Linked DNA regions of Homo sapiens. Each later gene encodes a partner of the first gene's protein in a complex. Each region holds a gene or a part of one and is shown on either strand. Other genes may lie near its edges. The genes, in order: RAB6A and GCC2. A codon is read from its position in the direction of its gene.

Region 1 (10,693 bases):
GGTATATAGCATACTGCAGTGAACAAATCAACCAACCTTACTCTCATGGAACTTCTAGTGGGGAGAAGTTGGACATTTAACAGTTAATCAAATAATTTATTAATCTAGTCAAAAGTGCTGTAAAGAAATACATTTAGGAGGCCAGGCGCAGTGGCTCACGCCTGTAATCCCAGCACTTCGGGAGGCCAAGGCGGGCGGATCACAAGGTCTGGAGATCGACACCATGTTGGCTAACACGGTGAAACCCCGTCTCTACTAAAAATACAAAAAATTAGCCGGGCCTGGTGTCGGGCGCCTGTAGTCCCAGCTATTCAGGAGGCTGAGGCAGGAGAATGGCGTGAACCCCGGGAGGCGGAGGTTGCGGTGAGCTGAGATTGAGCCACTGCACTCCAGCCTGGGTGACAGAGCGAGACTCCGTCTCAAAAAAAAAAAAAAAAAAACGAAATGCATTTAGGAAAACATGATCTTAGCATGATAATGATTGTGGCCTTTATAGTACTACCTAGCTGCATAATTTGTAAGTCACAATTTGCTATTTTCAGAGAAGGAAGAGAGTACTGTTCTTGACTTATATACTATAAAATTTACTTTTAGTCAGTTTGTGATGTTGCCTATGTATATCAACAAATGTACTTTGATGTTCGAACTAATATATTCTCAAGTGAATGTTTTTGTCATGGAAGAGAAAATGAAGTGTTCAGTGGGATATCTTTTTCTTTGCTTTTGGAGTCACCTTTTGAATTGCTGTTGTTTTACATGCTTTACATAGCTGTTCTTGAGTGTGAACTTTCTGCAGCCTATATGCAGTAATCCCATATTAAGGCAAAGTGAATGAGAAATGCATAAGCGTTTATATGGAATTTGAGAAACAGTTCAATTTTTTCTTTAAAAACCTATTTGTTAGAAATATTTGCTGTACAGGAATTGACATACATAAAGTTTGTGGTGTTTTATTTATGTAACTAAAAAAAATCTTATATATTGAAATGCAGGGTACTGGTTTACAGTATATAGATATGTGGGTAGGAGTGGTGAGAGTCATTTTCTTAGCCTTTATTGAGTATCTTATCTAAAAATATTGACATCGTACCATAATATCTTTTATTGTCCTTTTCCTGGTTTTTTTCTCTCATACTACTCTCTAATATACTATTTTACTTAATTAGCTTATTGTTTGTCTTAGCAGACTGTAACCTTTGCAAGGGCATAGATTCTTGTCTGCTTTTTATTCTTTTACCACAGGATTCTCAGCTGCTAATGATGGTGCCTAGTAGGCAATCAATAAATATTTCTTTCGGCCAGGCGCAGTGGCTCATGGCTGTAATCCCAGCACTTTGGGAGGCCGAGGTGGGCAGATCACTTGAGGTCAGGAGTTCGAGACCAGCCTGGCCAACATATAGTGAAACCCCGTCTCTACTAAAAAATACAAAAATTAACTGAGTGTGGTGGTGCACACCTGTAGTCTCAGCTGCTTGGGAAGCTGAGGCAGGACAATTGCTTGAACCTAGGAGGCGGAGGTTGCAGTGAGCCAAGATCACCCCACTGCACTCCAGCCTGGGTGACAGAGCAAGACTCTGTCTCTCAAAATAAATAAATAAAATAAAATAAAATAAGTAAAATAAATCTTTCTTTTTTTCCCCCCCAGTATTTGGAAGGAATAGAGTTCAATAAATATTCCTGATGAATGTGGACAGGTGTACATGATTTTTAAATGTGTTCCGTCCAATTTGGGTAGAGACTAACTGCATGTTTGTTCATCACTCTAGTACCTTACACAGTACTTGCAAGTACGTGCTTAATAAATATTTGATGAGCAAGCTGGGCACATTGGCTCATGCCTATAATCCTGGCACTTTGGGAGGCCGAGGTCGGGGGGAATCACTTGAGGCCAGGAGTTCGAGACCAGCCTGTCCAACATGACAAAACCCCATCTCTACTAAAAATACAAAAAGTAGCTGGGCTTGGTGGTGAATGCCTGTAATCCCAGCTACTTGAGAGGCTGAGGCACTAAAATTGCTTGAACCCAGGAGGCAGAAATTGCGGTGAGCCGAGATCACGCCACTGCACTCCAGCCTGGGCGACTGAGCGAGACTCTGTCTCTAAATAAATAAATAAATAAATAATCGATGAACGAATAAATGAGAACTAAATGGGGCAATGTGTATAAATCGGCACTTAGTAGATAATCAATTTATGTAATTTACTGTAGCTTTCATTCTTGAATATATGTAAAAACATGTAAAGACTTATCAACATTGCATTGATTTTTCATATAAAGATATTATCTTTAGGCAGGGTGTAGTGGCTCATGCCTATAGTCCCAGCGTGTTGGAAGGCCAAGTGGGGAAGATCTCTTGAACCTAGGGGTTCCAGACTAGCCTGGACAACATGGCAAAACCCTGTCTCTATAAAAAAATACAGAAATTAGTGGGGCATGGTGGCATGCACCTGTAGTCCCAGCTACTCGAGAGGATTGCTTGAGCCAGGAGGTTGAGGCTGCACTGAGACAAAATCACACCCCTATATACCAGCTTGGGCAAGAGTGTGAGACTGTCTCAAAAAAAAAAAAAAAAAAAAAAAATATATATATATATATATATATATATATATATATATATACACACACACATATATATTTGAATTTTATTTACGGAAGCATCAGAAAAGAATAAAATACTTAGGAACAAATTTAACAAACAGCATAAGACTATACAAAACACTGCTGGGAGAAATTAAAGGAGACACATGTATTAGTTTGTTCTCATGCTGCTAATAAAGAGATAACCCAAGACTGGGTAATTTATAAAGGAAAGAGGTTTAATAGACTCAAGTTCCACATGGCTGGGGAGGCCTCAGGAAACTTACAATCATGGCAGAAGGGGAAGCAAACATGTCCTTCTTCACATGGCAGCAACAAGGAGAAGCACAGAGCAAAGAGAGGGGAAATCCTTTTATAAAACCATCAGATCTCGTGAGAACTCAACTATGACACACACAAAATTCTATTTTTCTGCTAACAGAAATAAAATCCCCAACTGATGGACCACTTTTCTGATCTAGTTTTTGATTGTTTTTTAGGAACTTAAAATTCTTAGTGACTCATATTTTAAAATGCACAGACTCAGTTTCTGTTTTAAGGAATATGGCACAAAGATATTTAGGGAAAAAGTATGTATGTACACGCACATATATACATAGTATATGTGCACACAAACATTAATGAGGTGGTAAAACTTCTAAAATAGAGTCCATATCAACATCCTCTTTCTGGAGTCTGTCTTTCTTCCATTCTTTTTATTTATCTCCCCTAATTAATACTGGACTGTTTTTTAACTTGTATACTTTTTTTCCTTTCTTTTTTGTAGTCTGCCTTCTTTCTATTCTCTTATTATTTCACCATTTTCTCTTGATAGGGAAAACAGCAGCCAGGCAATAGAACTTTACATTTGTTTTCACCACAGAAGGAAGCTATCATTGTGTGGTACAGAGGAAAACTTGTTTTCCTTACCTAATGACTTTTATTTTATATTGGAAAAATCATGTCTCTTATGGAAAGTTATGATGTTTGTGAGTCTCTGGCTGTCTATGGCATTAGGACAGTTGACAATATATCAACAGTATTTTATAAAACTGCTCTTGGGGCAGATACTTACCATTCTGAGTGGAGAACAATCAGATACTCAAACTAAAGTTCAAATACAAATATTTAAACCAAAGTTGCCATTGTCTTGTTATTTGTAAAATGAGAAAAGTAGGGATGAGAATAAGCTACCTGGCAGGAATGTATAAAGATTAGAGATGATCATGTAAAAGGCTTAAAACAATCTCTGATATGAAGCAAGTGCTGAATACATGAAAATCATTATCACTGGAAATTTTGTTTGTCCTTAATTGTCCTTAATTGACTATGTTGTATTGATTTGTTTATTCATTATTTCTTCCACAATCATGAATCCCATTTGAATCCTAAACTGCTGGCCACCATTAAACTTATTATTTGTTAACTTCTTTGTTTTGTTTTACAGGCAACAATTGGCATTGACTTTTTATCAAAAACTATGTACTTGGAGGATCGAACAGTGAGTAATATTTTCAGTGTGCAATTTTCTGCAACATTCCAGGTTAGAAAACTGCAATCAAAGTTATCAATGATTGTCACCATAAGAAGTACTTAGCAAAGTTACCAAAGATAGTTTACAGTTGTTGAGAAAAACTCTTATTACCGAGTGAGTAGTACTTGGCAGTCATCTTGATTTGGAAAAATGAAAACAAAGAGCTTTACAGAGAATTAAAGGAGAATTTTTATGAAGAAATTAAACCTGCTAAAGACCTTCTAAATGCCACCCTTGAGGCATTCAAAAAGATTTCAATTTGTGAACTTCAAGATTTTTTTTGTCAGGATAGGATGCGTATCAAAGTGACTGACAAAAAAGAAGTTATGTGGGCAGGGTGCGGTGGCTCACACCTGTAATCCCAGCACTTTGGGAGGCTGAGGCAGGTGGATCATCTGAGGTCAGGAGTTTGAGACCAGCTTGGCCAACATGATGAAACCCCATCTCTATTAAAAATACAAAAAATTAGCCAGGCGTGGTGGCGGGCGCCTATAATCCCAGCTACTTGGGAGGCTGAGGCAGGAGAATCGCTTGAATCCAGGATGCAGAGGTTGCAGTGAGCTGAGATTGCGCCATTGCACTCTAGCCTGGGCAACAAGAGCGAAACTCCGTTGCAAAAAAAAAAAAAAAAAGTAATGTGTATTTATTTGTTGGATTTTTGTCTTTCATCCTTTGGAATGTTTTCTTTAAATACAGTGTAAAATCTGTATTCTAGCCCACTACCCCTTGAAGAGATACTTGTCACCTAAACAGTGAATATCTTAAATGCAGTACTTTGAGACCTGCACCCAAAAACATTATTTAATTTCCAGTGTTATTTCTTAGGTGTTTTTTTTTTCCTGAATATTCTCTTTTATGTTTTGATATATAGCATGTCATTTCTTAAAATTTGAAAGCGGCCAGGTGTGGTGGCTCACGCCTGTAATCCCAGCACTTTGGGAGGCCAGGATGGACAGATCACCTGAGGTCAGGAGTTGAAGACCAGCCTGGCCAACATGGCGAAACCCCATCTTTTCTAAAAATACAAAAATTAGCTGGGCGTGGTGGCGGGCGCCTGTAATCCCAGCTACTCGGGAGGCTGAGGCAGGAGAATCGTTTGAACCCGGGAGGCAGAGGTTGCAGTGAGCCGAGATCACACCACTGCACTTCAGCCTGAGCGACAAGAATGAGAGTCTGTCTAAAAAAAAAAAAAAAAATTTGAAAGCTTGGAAACGACTTTATCATGATGCAAGAACTTGATACTTGTTTTCAGGCTTTTCTTCCTGTAATATAGATATGGATAGTACGTAAAGACATTTTTATGTAGGGCTGCAAAAAGATCTTCCTCCTTTTTGTTACATTATACACACACACGCGTGCATGCGTGCGCGCACACACTCGCATGTTCTGGGGAAAATGTATGGGAGAAATACAAGCACGGTAGTTAAAAAACAGGTTTGAAAGTATTCTAGACCCAATAGGAAAGAGACACATTTTAGCTTGAGAGAAGCTTTCAAAGAAGCATTAATTCCTTTACTCTGATAGCTTAGGCTGCTCATTGACATTTACCTTAGGTTTTTTTGTTTTGTTTTGTTTTTTTCTCTATTTAACCATCAACAGTCTACTTTTTGCCACTTGAAAGGCATAGGGATTCAAACAGGTTTTAGGTAGGGAAAAAGGGAAGCCATATTTCTGATTCTGTGAAATTTTTCCCAGTGGCATTTTCCAGTCATTTATGTTTGGAGTATGCAAATTTTTAATATTTCTCCCTTTTGAAAAAGGAGTTTTGTGTTATTTTCATTCCTCACTCCCTGCAACCTCTTGCATGAGTCTTCTTTCTACTTCCTTCCCACCCTCTCCCTTTTACAAAAAACATTGTTTCTTTTTTCTTTTTAGTATTAGTTTGGTTTTTTTTTTTTTATTTATTTTTTCCCATCTCACAGATCAGGCTTCAGCTGTGGGATACTGCGGGTCAGGAACGTTTCCGTAGCCTCATTCCCAGTTACATCCGTGATTCTGCTGCAGCTGTAGTAGTTTACGATATCACAAGTAGGTATATTGCAACGGGTTGACCTTTCTTATTTTTCTTGCTTGTTTGACTGATTTTGTTGTTAGGTACGATTGCAATTATGGGACACAGCAGGTCAAGAGCGGTTCAGGAGCTTGATTCCTAGCTACATTCGTGACTCCACTGTGGCAGTTGTTGTTTATGATATCACAAGTGAGTGGAGGGAATTATGCATTTCTAATCTTCTTTCAACCTTTAGCTTAGCTGCATGCATGTTCTTGTCTTGTGCTTGTTTTCCTTACTGGCATGTAAAAATAAGTTTTATCATAGTAAATTACATACCAGCCAGGTCAGAAATATTTGCTTTGGTGTTTATACCAATATGCTTTATATGTAACTGTGCCAGGTTTTTTGCCCCAGAAATTTTCTTTTGGGTCCAACTATGAATCCTCTTCAAGGGTTTCTTAGTATCCTGTTATTCGTAAACCATACCATAATTATAGTTGGAGGAATGTTTCCTTGATCTCAGATTTCTCTAAAATAAAATGATCTGCATTTAAGTCTCTTGCCAGGTTTTCCAAATCCTCCAAGCTTTCTATTGAGGCTATTACAAGCTTCTGCTAGCCAGCTTTTCTCTGCTTTCCCCTTCCAGCCATTCTCTCTCTGTAGAGGAAGACAGAGAAAACATAATGTACAGTTTTCTATTAATCTTTTTTATTTGAATCATATTTTGGTTCTGTGACTGATTTATTTACTTTGTTGCTAACAAATTACACTTTCATTTCTCTCCAAGAAAAAAATTTTAAATAGGAGGTGAAACAACTAGTAGTCTTTTTCTTTTTTCTAAAGATTGAATAATGCCTGTGGCCTTTTAAGTGATTGTAAATTTTCCATGAAGCATTGGTGACTGACAAGAAAATGCTTTCTGATTGAAATTGCCTTTGTAAATTGGTTTATGACATATATTAGGCAATATTAAACATTATTACATGTAGTGGTTCATAACTTATAGGAAAACCAGGGTCTTGAACTCCTGGGTTCAAGTGATCCTCCTGCCTCAGCCTTCTAAAGTGCTAGGTTTAGGCCGGGCACAGTGGCTCACGCCGGAAATCCCCATATTTTGGGTGGCCAAGGCAGGCGGATCACCTGAGGTCAGGAGTTTGAGACCAGCCTGACCAACGTGATGAAACTCCATCTCTACTAAAAATGCAAAATTAGCCAGGTGTGGTGGTGCATGCCTGTAATCCCAGCTACTTGAGAGACTGAGGCAGGAAAACCTCTTGAACCTGGGAGGCGGAGGTTGCAGTGAGCCAAGACCGTGCCATTGCACTCCAGCCTGGGCAACAAGAACAAAACTCTGTCTCAACTACAACAACAACAACAAAAACTAAAGTGCTAGGGTTACAGGCATGAACCATTGTGCCCAGCCCAGTATCTGGGGCTTTCTTTTTAAATTTTTAAAAAATGTGTACCACACTACACAGATGTAGTATCTTGGGCTAAAAAAAATCTTAAATAGACAAAGGAACTATTCATTTGGACTAGTAATACTGTTACTATGCATTCTTGCATATCTCCTCAATTAGGAATTGTTATCTAATAACGAATAATTGTGCTGGCAAAATTAGAAGATTGCATTCAAGGACTTTTTTTGAGATAGGTGCTATATGCAGTCTTTCTTCCTTTGCACCTTTACTTTGGGTTGCTGTTTGTTTAAAAAAAAGAGGTATGTTCATATTGTGCATTGACACGTTTTGTAGCTTTAAAATGTTTGTGCTTACTTTAACCACAGCAAGTGAAACCTGGTGTATTTTTTTTTAAATCCACAAATGTGATTCAAATATTAGTACGTTGTTTTCTTTAGCTGCTGTAAGAAGTGTTGAAGTACTCTACTTAGAATCCAACACTAGAAAAGATAAATTTTGTTACAAGTGTTTCTGATGCATTAAACAAATAAACTTTAGGTTAAAGTGATCACAAACTGAGGAAGCAGTGCAAACAGTGGTGTTGAAAGCTATTGAAAGGCTTTACAGATTTTCTGGATGTGTTGGGACTTACTGGCTGACATACTTTGGAAAATGCTTTCTTTGTCATGTTTGGTATGTGTAAGTGATCAAAAAAGCATTGTGGCAATGTGACACCATATTATCTGCCATAGCTGTCCTTATATTTCAAAAAGTTGTTTTTTTTTCAATTAAATACTACATTGTACTCATTTGATCATGTTCAAAAAATTTTTAAACTACTCTAAAAGGAACCTTGAAGATTTTATTCTTGTAATTTGTTTAAATTGCTGACAGTTGTAATCAGATAAAATGGAGTTATGTTGCAGGCACATTAAAAGTGGGGTACTAATGTGCCAGCCCCCTTCCAACTTCCAGGGCTTTTTTGGAGGGAGGTGCCCACCACCTGGGGAGGCATTTTTCAGCAACACTAATCTCTCTGTCTACCCTCCTATACTAGATGTTAACTCATTCCAGCAAACTACAAAGTGGATTGATGATGTCAGAACAGAAAGAGGAAGTGATGTTATCATCATGCTAGTAGGAAATAAAACAGATCTTGCTGACAAGAGGTATGGAGTTATTTTATATGTGTGTAATGTTTGATTTCTGTGATGCAGCCTTTTATTTTTGTTCACTGAGAAATTGTTTTGAAAGGAGACATGCTTAATCCTTAAGTTTACGTCCTCCCCTGCTTTTCTTTAGCATGGGAACCTCAAATATAAATGTAAATATTAAACAGCCAGTCCTTAAGGGAAATGAATTTTATTTTGTTTAAGCCCATGTGTAAATAACTCTTGTGCAAGTTTGTTTAGACATGAAGCCAGTAAATATTTTGCTTTTTTTAGATCTCATAAGTATGAAAAGTGTTTTGTTAAAGAGCAAGCCATTTTGGAAAAACCTTATCTTTAAAAATTGTTCATAATGATTAAATGCACACTCTTTTCTTAGTAGTCTTCTTATAAAACATTCATTATAATTCAGTGGTGTGGATTTTTGTTTTTTGGTTGTTGGTTTTTAATTGTGTGGCTGAGCCAGACTGTGTAGTTGCACTGAATAGCTTGATTGTGATACCTTAGTCAAATGAGCAAAGCGATATTCAAGTCACAGGATGCAAAATATATTAACATTCACTGTAGGACCCATGGCTTGAATATTTGCTTTCAGCATTCTTAAGCGATTTACTGCATATTCTTTCTGCTTTAAATAGTTTTGACCATACTACTTAATAGTAAGAGCTTTTACTATTTATTTGTTTATTCATGAGATGGATATTGAAATTCGGGTAATGAACTTGTGATATTAATTCAAGTGTTGCAAAGAAAGCCAGTGTTAAAAGACTTGTGGAGATATGAAGCCCATTTCTGCACATGGCACCTCAGTTAGAATTGGTAGTACAGGCCGGGTGCGGTGGCTCACAACTGTAATCCCAGCACTTTGGGAGGCCAAGGACGGTGGAACACGAGGTCAGGAGTTCAAGACCAGCCTGGCCAAGATGGTGAAATCCCGTCTCTACTAAAAATACAAAATTAGCTGGGCGCTGTGGCATGCACCTGTAATCCCAGCTACTCGGGAGGCTGAGGCAGGAGAACTGCTTGAACCAGGGGAGCGGAGGTTGCAGTGAGCTGAAATTGTGCCATTGCACTCCAGCCTGGGCAACAGAGTGAGACTCCGTCTCAAAAAAAAAAGAATTGGTAGTACAGTTGCAAAAAAGTCTTTCTTAATTTAAAAGTAAATTCAAAGTGATTGCATCTTTTCTTTATAAAAATATGTTTTGGACATGAACTGCTATGAAGGAAATTTTCACTATTTTATTTATCCTCACTCTAGAGACTTTGTAGGTACTTTTCTTTTTTTGGGATGGAGTCTCATTCCGTCGCCCAGGCTGGAATGCAGTGGTGTGATCTCAGCTCATTACAACCTCCACCACCTGGGTTCAAGCGATTCTTCTGCCTCAGCCTCCTGAGTAGCTGGGATTACAGGCGCCTGCCACCATGTCCTGCAAATTTTTGTATTTTTAGTAGAGACGGGGTTTCACCATGTTGGCCAGGCTGATCTTGAACTCCTGACCTCGTGATCCACCCGCCTCAGCCTCCCAAAGTGCCAGGCGTGAGCCACCGCGCCCTGCCAGTACCTTTATTTTATTTATTTATTTATTTTTGAGTTGGAGTCTCGCATTGTCACCTGGGTTGGAGTGCCATGGCGCGATCTCGGCTCACTGCAACCTCTGCCTCCCAGGCTCAAGCAATTCTCCTGCCTCAGCCTCCCGAGTAGCTGGGATTACTGATGCCTGCCACCATGCCCGGCTCATTTTTTTGTATTTTTAGTAGAGACGAGGTTTCACTATGTTGGCCAGGCTGGTCTCAAACTCCTGACCTTGTGATCCGCCTGCCTTGGCCTTCCAAAGTGCTGGGATTACAGGCGTGAGTCACCGCGCCCGGCCTCTTCATTTTTAAATAGAAAAATTGTATATCTGAATTGTTTCCCTTTATAGCCAGAGTTATCTGAGGAGGATGCTTATAAGGATTTTTTTATTGCTTAATATTTCAGTTGTGTGCACAAATGGTAGAAACTTGTCAAATTATATGTGT
Region 2 (10,915 bases), on another chromosome or scaffold:
CCTGTAATCCCAGCACTTTGGGAGGCCAAGGCAGGCGGATCACGAGGTCAGGAGATCGAGACCATCCTGGCTAACATGGTGAAACCCTGTCTCTACCAAAAATACAAAAAATTAGCCGGGTGTTGTGGCTGGCGCCTGTAGCCCCAGCTACTCAGGAGGCTGAGGCAGGAGAATGGCATGAACTCGGGAGAGGCGGAGCTTGCAGTGAGCCGAGATCATGCCACTGAACTCCAGCCTAGGCAACACAGCAAGACTCTGTCTTAAAAAAAAAAAAAATTCTCAAATTAAGAGGAACTGATCCCATTGTCTGGTATCCACAAAAGACACTCACTTGCCCAGACACAAAACACACAATTACAAAGAAGCCCCAAAAATGTCCAAACTGAAACAGTCAGAATGCTTCTCCCTCTCAGTCAGTTGGCCTTGTTCAACCTACAAAATGGAAATTCAGCTTAAAATTTCCCAAATTAGGAGGAGCAGATCCTGCTTTCTGGGCCCACAAAGGACACTCACCTATCTAGATGTAGATGTGAAATTTCAAAGGCAGTTCGTCCCAGGAAGTCAGGAACGCAGTTGGGGCTGGCAGTATCAGGGCCAGAGAGAGATGGAAACTCACCTCTAGTCAAAATTGGATGGGCAGCCATTTAGGTGGTCTTCTGAGACTCCTGGCCCTAGCAGCCAAGCCAAGAGCAACACATTCCCAATCAGGGAACCACAATCTGTTACAGAAACACCAGGGGAAAGTCTATGTCCTGCCGCTCACCACACGGAAAGCCAATCACTGAGATGATGAGTATTGCCAAGGAAGAAGATTTTAATTGGGTGCTGCAGCTGAGGAGATGGGAGCTCATTCTCAAATCCATTTCTCTGACTGACTAAAATTAGGAGTGTATACAACAGGGAAGAAATGTAACAATGTGTAAGGAAATAGGAACTAGGGAGGGGCAAGGAAGCAATCATAATGAATGAGGGGTCCACCATCTCATTGTCAGGATGTGGTGATCTGTAACTTTCAGTTTTTTGATACTTTTTTGAGAGGCCTAAAGGTAGTTTCCTGAGGAAGGAACTCAGATAAAACAAATGTAAGTTTCAAGCTTTAAGACCAGAAGGTCCATTTCTATGTTTATCAACAATACTATCTATGGGACTATTGGGTCGGTTCCATTATCACCACTGCTCTTCGGCTTCATTATCTCTGTTTCCTCCCTTGTTTCCTTAGAGACATGATTTTCCTGAATCTCACAGGCTGAAAATCAGTTATATGTGCCTTTTTAAAATAACTGCTATGGGCTGAATTGTGCCCCATCCACCAAATTCATATTTTAAAGTCCTAAATCGCAGTCCCACAAAATGTGACCTTTTGGAAATAGGGTCTTTACAAAGGTAATCAACTTAAAATGAGGTCATTAACGTATACCCTGATCCAATGTAACTGCAGTCCTTACAAAATGTGAAATTTGGCCACAAAAACATGCATAGAAGGAAAATGATGATAAGAGAAACAAAGGGAAGACAGCCATCTGTGAGCCAAGGAGTGAGGCCAGAAACAGATCCTTTCCTCACAGCTCTGAGGAACCAGCACTGCCAACACCTCTGAACTTCCAGCCTCCAGGACTGTGAGACAATACATTTCTGTTGTGTAAGCCAACTAGTCTGTGATACTGTTACAGAAGCCCTGGCAAACAAATAAAATAATTATATAATCTAATAAACTAAAGGCACAGAAGTTTACCCTGACTTAAAGCAGAAACCAAATTCACCAGTGATAGAAGCAGGAGATAGCCAAATGCCTAAGCAGATAGGGAAGGGTCCCCAGAGAATCTCTGACCAGCCACACAAGGGTTTACACCAGATGTTTTGTGCAGATAAGGGAACCTGCACAGGGGTCTTGCCTGGGCATGCCCACAGTGGACTGGAGGCCCACATGCACTGGGGGAATAGGGTGGAGCCACCAGGAATTTGCGCCTTATGCAGGGGAGGAGCCTGGCCTCTTCAACTCATGTGTGGTGGCCCTGGTATTCAATTTGGGAGGTGACAACCTGCTCTCAGGACCCCTCTCTTTGCTGAGAGCTTTCTTTTCACTTAATAAATTCCACTCTCCTCATCCTTCAATGTGGCTGCATGCCTAATTCTTCCTGGTCATGAGAAAAGAACCCAGATTAGCTGAGCTAAGGAGCAAAAAAATCCTGCATCACCAGTATGAACATCTAAGACTCATGAACATTTGTTTTCAATATTGTTATAAAAATTTACTTTATAAATTAAAAAGTAATGCTGGCTAGCTACAGCATGTTGATGTGGCTTTACAGTATAATACCAAATAGATAATATTTTTGTGTCATGGAGGAGAAAGCATTGCACTGAGGGTCAAGAATCCTCTGTTCTGGCCGGGCGTGGTGGCTCACACCTGTAATCCCAGCATTTTGGGAGGCCGAGGGAGGCGGATCACCTAAGGTCGGGAGTTCGAGACCAGCCTGACCAACATGGTGAAACCCCGTCTCTACTAAAAATACAAAAATTAGCTGGGCATGGTGATGCATGCCTGTAATCCCAGCTACTCAGGAGGGTGAGGCAGGAGAATCACTAGAACTTGGGAGGCGGAGGTTGTGGTGACCCGAGATTGTGCCATTGCACTCCAGCCTGGGCAACAAGAGCGAAACTCCGTCTCAAAAAAAAAAAAACAATCCTCAGTTCTGGTACTGGCTCTACCCCTAATCATACTATGAACCTTAGAAAGTAACTTACATTCTGGCTCACTATCTTATCCTGTATAATAAGAGGCAATAGGTTAGGTCAGAACTACATTCACTTGTAAGTATATTAAAAGTAAATTAAAACATATGACTTATCTTTTAGCTACATCAATACAATATAAATGGGCCGGGTGTGGTGGCTCATGCCTATAATCCTAGCACTTTGGGAGGCTGAGGCAGGTGGATCACTTGAGGTCAGGAGTTCAAGACCAGCCTGGCCAAGATGGTGAAACCTTGTCTCTACTAAAAATACAAAAATTATCCAGATGTGGTGGCACTTGCCTGTAGTCCCCGCTACTCGGGAGGCTGAGGCGGGAGAATCACTTGAACCCAAGAGGCAGAGGTTGCAGTGAGCCAAGATCATGCCACTGCACTCCAGCCTGGATGACAAAGCAAGACCTGTCTGAAAAAAAAAAAAAAAAAAAAAGGAGAAGAAAGAAAAAAAAATACAATGTAAATGTAGTTTTTCCATGCTTACCTTAAGAGTTATAATCAAAGCACTGAAGAGCCAAGGATTGATTTTTCTGAAATAAAACTTGCTAGCGAACTAACAAAAAAAGATCAGGTGTCTCTCCGGACCATCCCTAAGCAACAGGTGCCTTTTAATGTGGCTCTTCAGGAGATAATGGCATGTTGGCACCATTCCAAACTGGTAAAGAAGCTATTTTTACTTAGGCAAGACCCTGCAACTTGCTCAAATTATATTATGTTTCAGTAGTGCTGGTTAACATACAGCAGTCTCCATCTACTATACAATGTGACCAGCACAGCACATATTATTGACATTGTTATTAACATTGTTCCTATTTTCTATTTCCATAAATGATTCAAGGTGATTTTTATTTTCTTTTCGGAATTTTCCTATATTTTCCAGGTGTTCTACAATGAACCTGTGTTACTTTTACAATTGGAAAGAAACATATTCGTTAAACAGGTCATAGTTCTGCTCATTAAGGTAATATACATCTTTAAAATGTGAACTTATCTGCAGTCCAGAGAATGTGAAATATAAAGCAGATCTTTCCTATAGGTTTATGAATATCAGAAGATCTCAGAGTACTCACAATCAATTCATAAATATTCATTCTTTAAAGTATGAAAGATGATAAATATATTTAGAAGATTTCAGCACTTACTATAACTAGTGAAGGAAGAAATAAATGATTTCTTCCTTAAGAGGAACAACAACAGAAGGTATCCGATGGTCAAGAACATTATACCTGCCTCCATCATCTCAGAAAATAAAATTCCTGTCCAATGACAACCAGGAAGGCAGATGGGGGTGAGCTCGAGCTGTGTGAGGAGGCCGCTGATGACCTGGAGCTTAGGGGTGTGCTGACCCTCATCTCCCTGGGGATTCCCAGGAGACGCTGCCCTACCTGTAGCTGCAACTCATGGACCCTGTTACCCAGCCAAGTGCAATGGAGGGCTGGCGAGGGAAGAAAGATCAAAGGAAGAAAAGAAAGGTTCTTTTTTATTTCAAGTATGAGAAAAAGAGAGTTCTACTGTGAGAACATCAACTCTTCTGTAGCTATTGATGTAGCCAAACTCCTGGAATGTAACTATATCTAACAGTGTTTCTCTGAGAAACTTTTACAGGATTGGAATGTGTGTAGTATCTAGTTAACCTGCTATTTTATTGCAAGTGATTTTTTCAAGTTATTAATTGAAATAGGAGTCTACCGTAAGTTGCTCTTAACTTGGGGAACTACTTTGAATGGCATTAATCTGGACCATTAATAACAATGTATACTTGGGGATTGTGTGTGTGTGTGTGTATACATGTGTGTGCATATATGTGTGTACACACACGTGCACACACACGTGCGCGCACACGTGCACACACACACGTGCACACACACACGTGTACACACACACGTGTACACACACACGTGTGTTACTGTACGTGGAGACTGTACATCTTAGGTCACACACCACCCCTGAACCAATCCTACAAACACCATAGGTGATACACACTGTCAAAGACAAAGAGTAGATGTCCACAATAGCTGTTCTTTCTCGTTTATAACACTTCTTTTACCTAGTAATAATCAGCTACCATTTACTCGATACATACTGTGTGCTGCCTCTTCAACCTTTTGACCATTTAAACTACAGGAAACTAGGTTATCTTCAGGTTACCTTAGTTATGGGAGTGTATGGAAAACATTAATGGGAAGGTGAAAGCGCAGCAAACCACTTCAGCAGTTAACAGAAAGGCTCTCAGAGCACTGGACCGCCAATCAGGACACAGCAGCAGCTCTGGGATTCGACCACAGATTCTCTGGCGTGCCCTTCGGGAAAGGGTGGCCTCGGGCCCCCTACTCTACAGAGTCTCCTCCCACGGCTGCCCAGTTCCCTGGCCGACTATCTTGCCTCCACCACATCACCATCAGTACCGGGCGGCTGCAGGGCAGAGCTGTCCAGGGACCTCCTCACAGCCTCCAGAGTCAAGAAATGCCTCCTCAGGGAAGCCCTCTACCGCATCCCTGACCTGTGAGTCACGGAGCTCCCGGGCACCATGCTGGCCACAAATGCCTAAGGAGCCCCCCGGAACCAGCTGTGGGTCCCGCAGGCACTCGCAGGCTAGCGGACACCTTTGGAGGACTGAGAGACCTGTCCTGCAATCCAATGTTCCTCACTCTCACAAGATTTTACAGACGTGGAAACCGAGGCCCGAGGCCCCAAGGGGTAATCGGCCCGCCTTCCCATGCCAATAACCGGCAGTGGCGGGACCCACACCTACTCCGTGACCTGCAGGCCCAGGGGTCGAGCCCCAGGTAGAACGTCTAGACGGACTCCGCCCTTAGCGCCGTACGGGGAACCTTCTCCCGGACGCAGACACGGAAGCGGAAGTGCTGCCGAGCTGTAGCTATGGAGACGTGGGGGGCGGGCCGCCCGGAGAGCGCGACCTTTGACCTGCAGTAGAGCCTACGTCAGAGGCTGGCGCAAACAGAAGTGCAGCGGTGGCGGCGGCTGGTTGCGGGCCGGCGGCGGGCTGGCGGAGATGGAGGTAACTCAGGTCGGGCCCACTGCCTCCCATCAAGCCTTCCGCGCCGCGATTTGGGATGTGGGAGTGGGCCCGATGGGAGGGCGCGGTAGTCTCCCTCTTGGTGTCCCGAAGCCCGCGCTGCTGTCGCCTCCCCATCTTTCGTAAACTCTATCCCTGGGGGTTACCTGCCCCGTAGAGCCCGTTTGTGTACGAATTGCCACAGCGACCGCCTCCGTCCGCCCTCATTCTCTGTCTCACGAGGCTTTCCACCACTTGATTCCATAGAAGGTTTTTCCCTGTAAGGGTTCTACGCGTTCCGTGTGGAATTAGGAAAAGAGTTCTTCTGACACCTGGGTTTGATTTTGTTTTGCAGGATCTTGTTCAAGATGGGGTGGCTTCACCAGCTACCCCTGGGACCGGGAAATCTAAGGTGAAGAGAATACTTGAATAGCGGGCTTCCTGAAGAGTGGAAGGGTGATGAATTGGAAAACTTTGGCATGGGGAAGGGGGGGGCGCTGATTTTTTTTTTTTTAATAGCCTTGCTCCAAGGGATCTCAATTTTAGTGTGCGCAATCGCCCATTTCCTGTTTCTCCCCCGCCCACCCCGATATAGAAAGACTTTTTGTTTGCTTCCTGCTCCTGGTTAGCACTGCTGGGAGATCCTGCTATTTTTCGAACATAAAGCAGTCTAAGAAGGTTTATATAGTGGTGTAGTGGAAGGAGCAGTGACATAGGGTAGGAATCAAGGGATTCTGATCTGTGGGCTCCAGTTTCTACATTGCCAAAGAGTTTAATTAGTCCAGTTTTATGGCCCTGTACAATGTTTAACATTCAATCATTCTAAATGATAGTGGTTTATTGCTAAGGTTTATTGTGTGCATGCTAAATTTCTGGCGCTTGCCTAACCACTCAGTTCCTTCGTTTAAGCTTCATGATAACCATGAGATAGGTACTGTTGTTACCCTCCTTTTACAGATGAGAAACCTGAGACCACAGGCTTAAGCAATTTTCTCAAGTGGTAAAGCTCAATTTTTTAATTAAAGCCTGAATGTTACCCGGTTCATCTTGCTGCTGTAATTATGCGTAAATTTTCTTGTGACCAAAGACTTGCAGCCTTGAATAGAATGAAATAATTTTACAGCTCCAAGGAATTTTAAGTAGCATTAGCTCCAACCTACTGATTTTACAATTAAATCAAAAGCTAGCAATGTCAACCTGTAACATTAGCTATAAGAGGATATGGCCTGGTTTTTACGTTTCATAGTAGTTGCATAACTAATTTTTAGTAGTTGCATAGCAATTACAGAATTGACGTTGCATTTGCTGATTTTAAAAAATGTGGCCGGGCGCGGTGGGTCACGCCTGTAATCCCAACACTTTGGGAGGCCGAGGCGGGCAGATCACCTGCGGTCAGGAGTTTGAGACCAGCCTGGCCAACATGGTGAAACCCCGTCTCTACTAAAAATACAAAAATTAGCCGGACGTGGTAGCGGGCGCCTATGATCCCAGCTATTTGGGAGGCTGAGACAGGAGAATTGCTTGAACTTGGGAGGCAGAGGTTACAAGTGAGCCAAGATCGTGTCATGCACTCCGGCCTGGGCAATAGAGCGAGACTCTGTCTCAAAAAAAAAATGTGGAACAAAGTATGCGGTTGGCATAAAGATTTATTCTGTAGAATGTTTTTGTTTTCTAGCAGACATTGTTTCTTTTTTGTGGTATACTAGAAACATGAGTTATAACAAGTTGGTAACATGACCACATCTTTCAGCTGGAAACATTGCCCAAAGAAGACCTCATCAAGTTTGCCAAGAAACAGATGATGCTAATACAGAAAGCTAAATCAAGGTGTACAGGTATTGGGTTGAAAATACTCATCTTGATCACAGTCTCTTTAATCGTGGTTTAAAATGGTAGTTTTTAAAATAATGCATTGGCTTGTTTTTGTTTGTTTTCCAGTGATTCCAAGTACACCTTAGTGTAGTAGAATCTGTTATTTAACATTCTAAAAATTTACCTCTGATTTCTAAATTATTCCCACATCTCTAAACCACAGTGACTTTTGAGTTGTTAAAGTCAGGGAGGAGGATTTTTAAAGTTTGTGTAAGTTAAGTGTGTTTTTCCTTCATGTAGACTTTAGATTCTTCTGAGTTCTGAGTAAAGTGTTTTTTCAAGAGAAGTCAGTTGAAATGTTAGAGACAGAAGATAAGCCCAAAGAGATGGAAAGCTTCCTCAATTAAAATAATAAAAGACTTCCATTTACAGATATTGAAGTATGTTTACCTGCTGAAGTTGATTGATTCCCTATTCAGTTTTCTTTTTATTCCAGAAGGAAAAAGATCTTAGCACCTTTTTTTTTTAGTATATGTACATGAGCTCTTGAATTTCCAGTGACTTATAAATATTAACTGCTTAGCCTAAAAGCTAAGACTTATTTTCTATTAGAAAAGATAAAAGTATGTCTTGGGAGTTTGGATCACCTTGCAATGAAGAGAATAATTTATTTGGAAAGAAGTTCTAGGCCTGAGATCTAGGCATTTGCTAATTAAACACTTAGATTAACGTTTCTTTTCTCTCTCTCTCTCTTTTTTTTTTTTTTTTTTCAAGACGGAGTCTCGCTCTTCTTGGCCAGGCTGGAGTGCAGTGGCGCAATCTCGGCTTACTGCAACCTCCCCTTCCCGGGTTCAAGCGATTCTCCTGCCTCAGCCTCCCGAGTAACTGGGACTGCAGGCACCCACCACCATGCCTGGCTAATTTTTGTATTTTTAGTAGAGACGAGGTTTCACCATGTTGGCCAGGCTGTTCTCGATAACGTTTATTCTTAATATGTGATTGTTGCTTTAAGGTTATACAGTAAGATGTACTTACAGGTGAAATAATATGATGTCTGGGGTATGCTTGAAAATTATCAGATGGATAAGAAAAGCAGTGAAGGAGGAAGTGAGTACAGGTTGGGAGGAAACAAAATTGGCCATGTAATGCTGAAGTATAGTGATGAGTGCAGAGATTAATCATACTATTCTGCTTAAATATATTCTAATTTGCAGATTTATGGGGGGTTTTGTGAGAATGTACTTATCAGTTTCCCAGTAATTATGTTCTTTATTTCTGAACCGGAGTCCTTTATTTTTTAATTGTTTAGAATTGGAGAAAGAAATTGAAGAACTCAGATCAAAACCTGTTACTGAAGGAACTGGTGATATTATTAAGGTAATTATTACGTTGGGAAATGTCTAAAGAGAAATAAAATTTCCCTGAGGATTGTCAGTCTGCTAGAGGCTATCTGGCTTTCTGTTTCTGTTCTACTTCCTCTCTGCCTTGGTTGTTTTTACCTATCTGATTCACTGTAAAAAGAGGGGGTTAATGACCTCTGGGTCTCTTTCTGTTCTGAAATTATTATTCTACTCTCTTCCCACGTATTTTCTTTTTTCTTTCTTTTTTTTTTTTTTTTTTTTTGAGATGGAGTCTCACTCTGTCACCAGGCTGAAGTGCAGTGGTGTGATCTTGGCTCACTGTAACCTCTGCCTCCCGAGTTCAAGCAGTTCTCCTGCCTCAGCCTTCCAAATAGCTGGGACTACAGGCGCCCGCCACCACACCCAGTTAATTTTTGTATTTTAAGTAGAGACGGGATTTCACCATGTTGGCCAAGATGGTCTTGCTCTCTTGACCTCACGATCCGCCCGCCTCAGCCTCCCAAAGTGCTGGGATTACAGGCGTGAGCCACCACGCCCAGCCCATATTTTCTAATTATGGTTGTTACTTCATTCTCTGCTCTTCCCCAGCCCCCTGAAAACCTGGCCATGCTCAGGACTTAAGTGATTTTAGGTGTACAGTATATAATCTATAGATAGATCCATATCCCTGGACATGTCTACTGACCCAGATCTCACAGTTGTGTTTCCCTCTCACACATTTCACTTATCTCATCAAACTCAACCAAATTGCTTCCCTTGGTTAGACCAGTGGCACCACAGTTTTTTATACCTTTTGACTTTAGAGACACTTTAACTTCTCTGTTTCCTTTATTCTCTATATGTGTCAGTCACCAGAGACCTATTATAGCTTTAAGATATTGTTCCAGTTTATCTTTTTTCTCTCTATTTCTATGGCTTTATGTTAAACACATCAAATACTTAACCTATTTCAATAAAAACCTCACTGGGTTCTCTTTCTCTTTTTAGTCTTATATAATACTGCCAGATAACAAAATATTGTTTTTATTCCCCGTTTAAAAACCTGAGTTGCAGGCCAAATGCAGTGGCTCACACCTGTAATCCCAGCACTTTGGGAGGCCAAGGTGGGAGGATCACTTGAGGTCAGGAGTTTGAGATCAGCCTGGCCAGCATGGTGAAACCCTGTCTGTACTAAAAATACAACATTTAGCTGGGCGTGATTGCCCACACCTGAAATCCCAACTACTCAGGAGGCTGAGGCACGAGGATTGCTTGAACCCAGGAGGCAGAAGTTGCAATGAGTTGAGATTGAGCCACTGTACTCCAGCCTGGGCAACACAGCAAGACTCCGTTTTTAAAAAAAAAAAAAAAAACACAAAAAATCTGAGTTGCTTATTCTTATTTCCACTCCCTTAATGCTAACAAATGCTTTTTCATTCCCTCACTTTCATTGCCCGCCTTAGGCCAAGCTTCTGTAAAGTTTCTTTTACATCTCAGAGCTCTGAAATACTGTTTTCACTGCTTTTGCATAATATCCGTTGGTTATATATTTATTTATTTTTATTTATTTATTTATTTTGAGACAGAGTCTCGCCTTGTCGCCCAGGCTGGAGTGCAGTGGCACAATCTCGGCTCACCGCAAGCTCCGCCTCCTGGGTTGACGCCATTCTCCTGCCTCAGCCTCCCAAGTAGCTGGGACTACAGGCACCCGCCACCATGCCTGGCTAATTTTTTGTATTTTTAGTAGAAACAGGGTTTCACCACGTTAGCCAGGATGGTCTCGATCTCCTGACCTCGTGATCCACCTGCCTCGTCCTCCCGAAGTGCTGGGTTTACGGGCGTGAGCCACTGCGCCCAGCCTGGTTATATATTATCTTATTTTCTCATCAGTGGCTCCCCACTTGTGAGCAGTGAACTACTGAGGGACTCCCAGAGAGTTATTACAAGGGGTCTTTAAATCCATATGCATGTCACACAGTATCATTTTGTTCTTTATTTAG

Evidence for each region.
Region 2: the proteins of RAB6A (region 1) and GCC2 are in contact, whole or in part, in a crystal structure (PDB 3BBP), measured with the Homo sapiens proteins. Residues at the interface, in NP_942599.1 of Homo sapiens: Lys15, Ile46 (codon at 4,032), Gly47 (codon at 4,035), Ile48 (codon at 4,038), Trp67 (codon at 6,222), Arg74 (codon at 6,243), Phe75 (codon at 6,246), Ser77 (codon at 6,252), Leu78 (codon at 6,255), Ser81 (codon at 6,264), Tyr82 (codon at 6,267), Asp85 (codon at 6,276); in NP_852118.2 of Homo sapiens: Thr1585, Ile1588, Leu1589, Glu1591, Gln1592, Leu1595, Leu1596, Glu1599, Arg1602.

Annotation. Positions count from the first base shown.
Region 1 is NC_000011.10:73,714,232-73,724,924, reverse strand, and holds part of RAB6A (ras-related protein Rab-6A), read left to right. Parts: intron 1-4,025; coding exon 4,026-4,079; intron 4,080-6,034; coding exon of another isoform or gene 6,035-6,140; intron 6,141-6,206; coding exon 6,207-6,312; intron 6,313-8,562; coding exon 8,563-8,674; intron 8,675-10,693. UniProt on the Homo sapiens protein: The small GTPases Rab are key regulators of intracellular membrane trafficking, from the formation of transport vesicles to their fusion with membranes.
Region 2 is NC_000002.12:108,443,515-108,454,429, forward strand, and holds the start of GCC2 (GRIP and coiled-coil domain-containing protein 2), read left to right. Parts: upstream 1-5,691; 5' UTR 5,692-5,760; coding exon 5,761-5,766; coding exon of another isoform or gene 5,767-5,775; intron 5,776-6,118; coding exon 6,119-6,175; intron 6,176-7,513; coding exon 7,514-7,598; intron 7,599-8,884; coding exon 8,885-8,952; intron 8,953-10,915. UniProt on the Homo sapiens protein: Golgin which probably tethers transport vesicles to the trans-Golgi network (TGN) and regulates vesicular transport between the endosomes and the Golgi.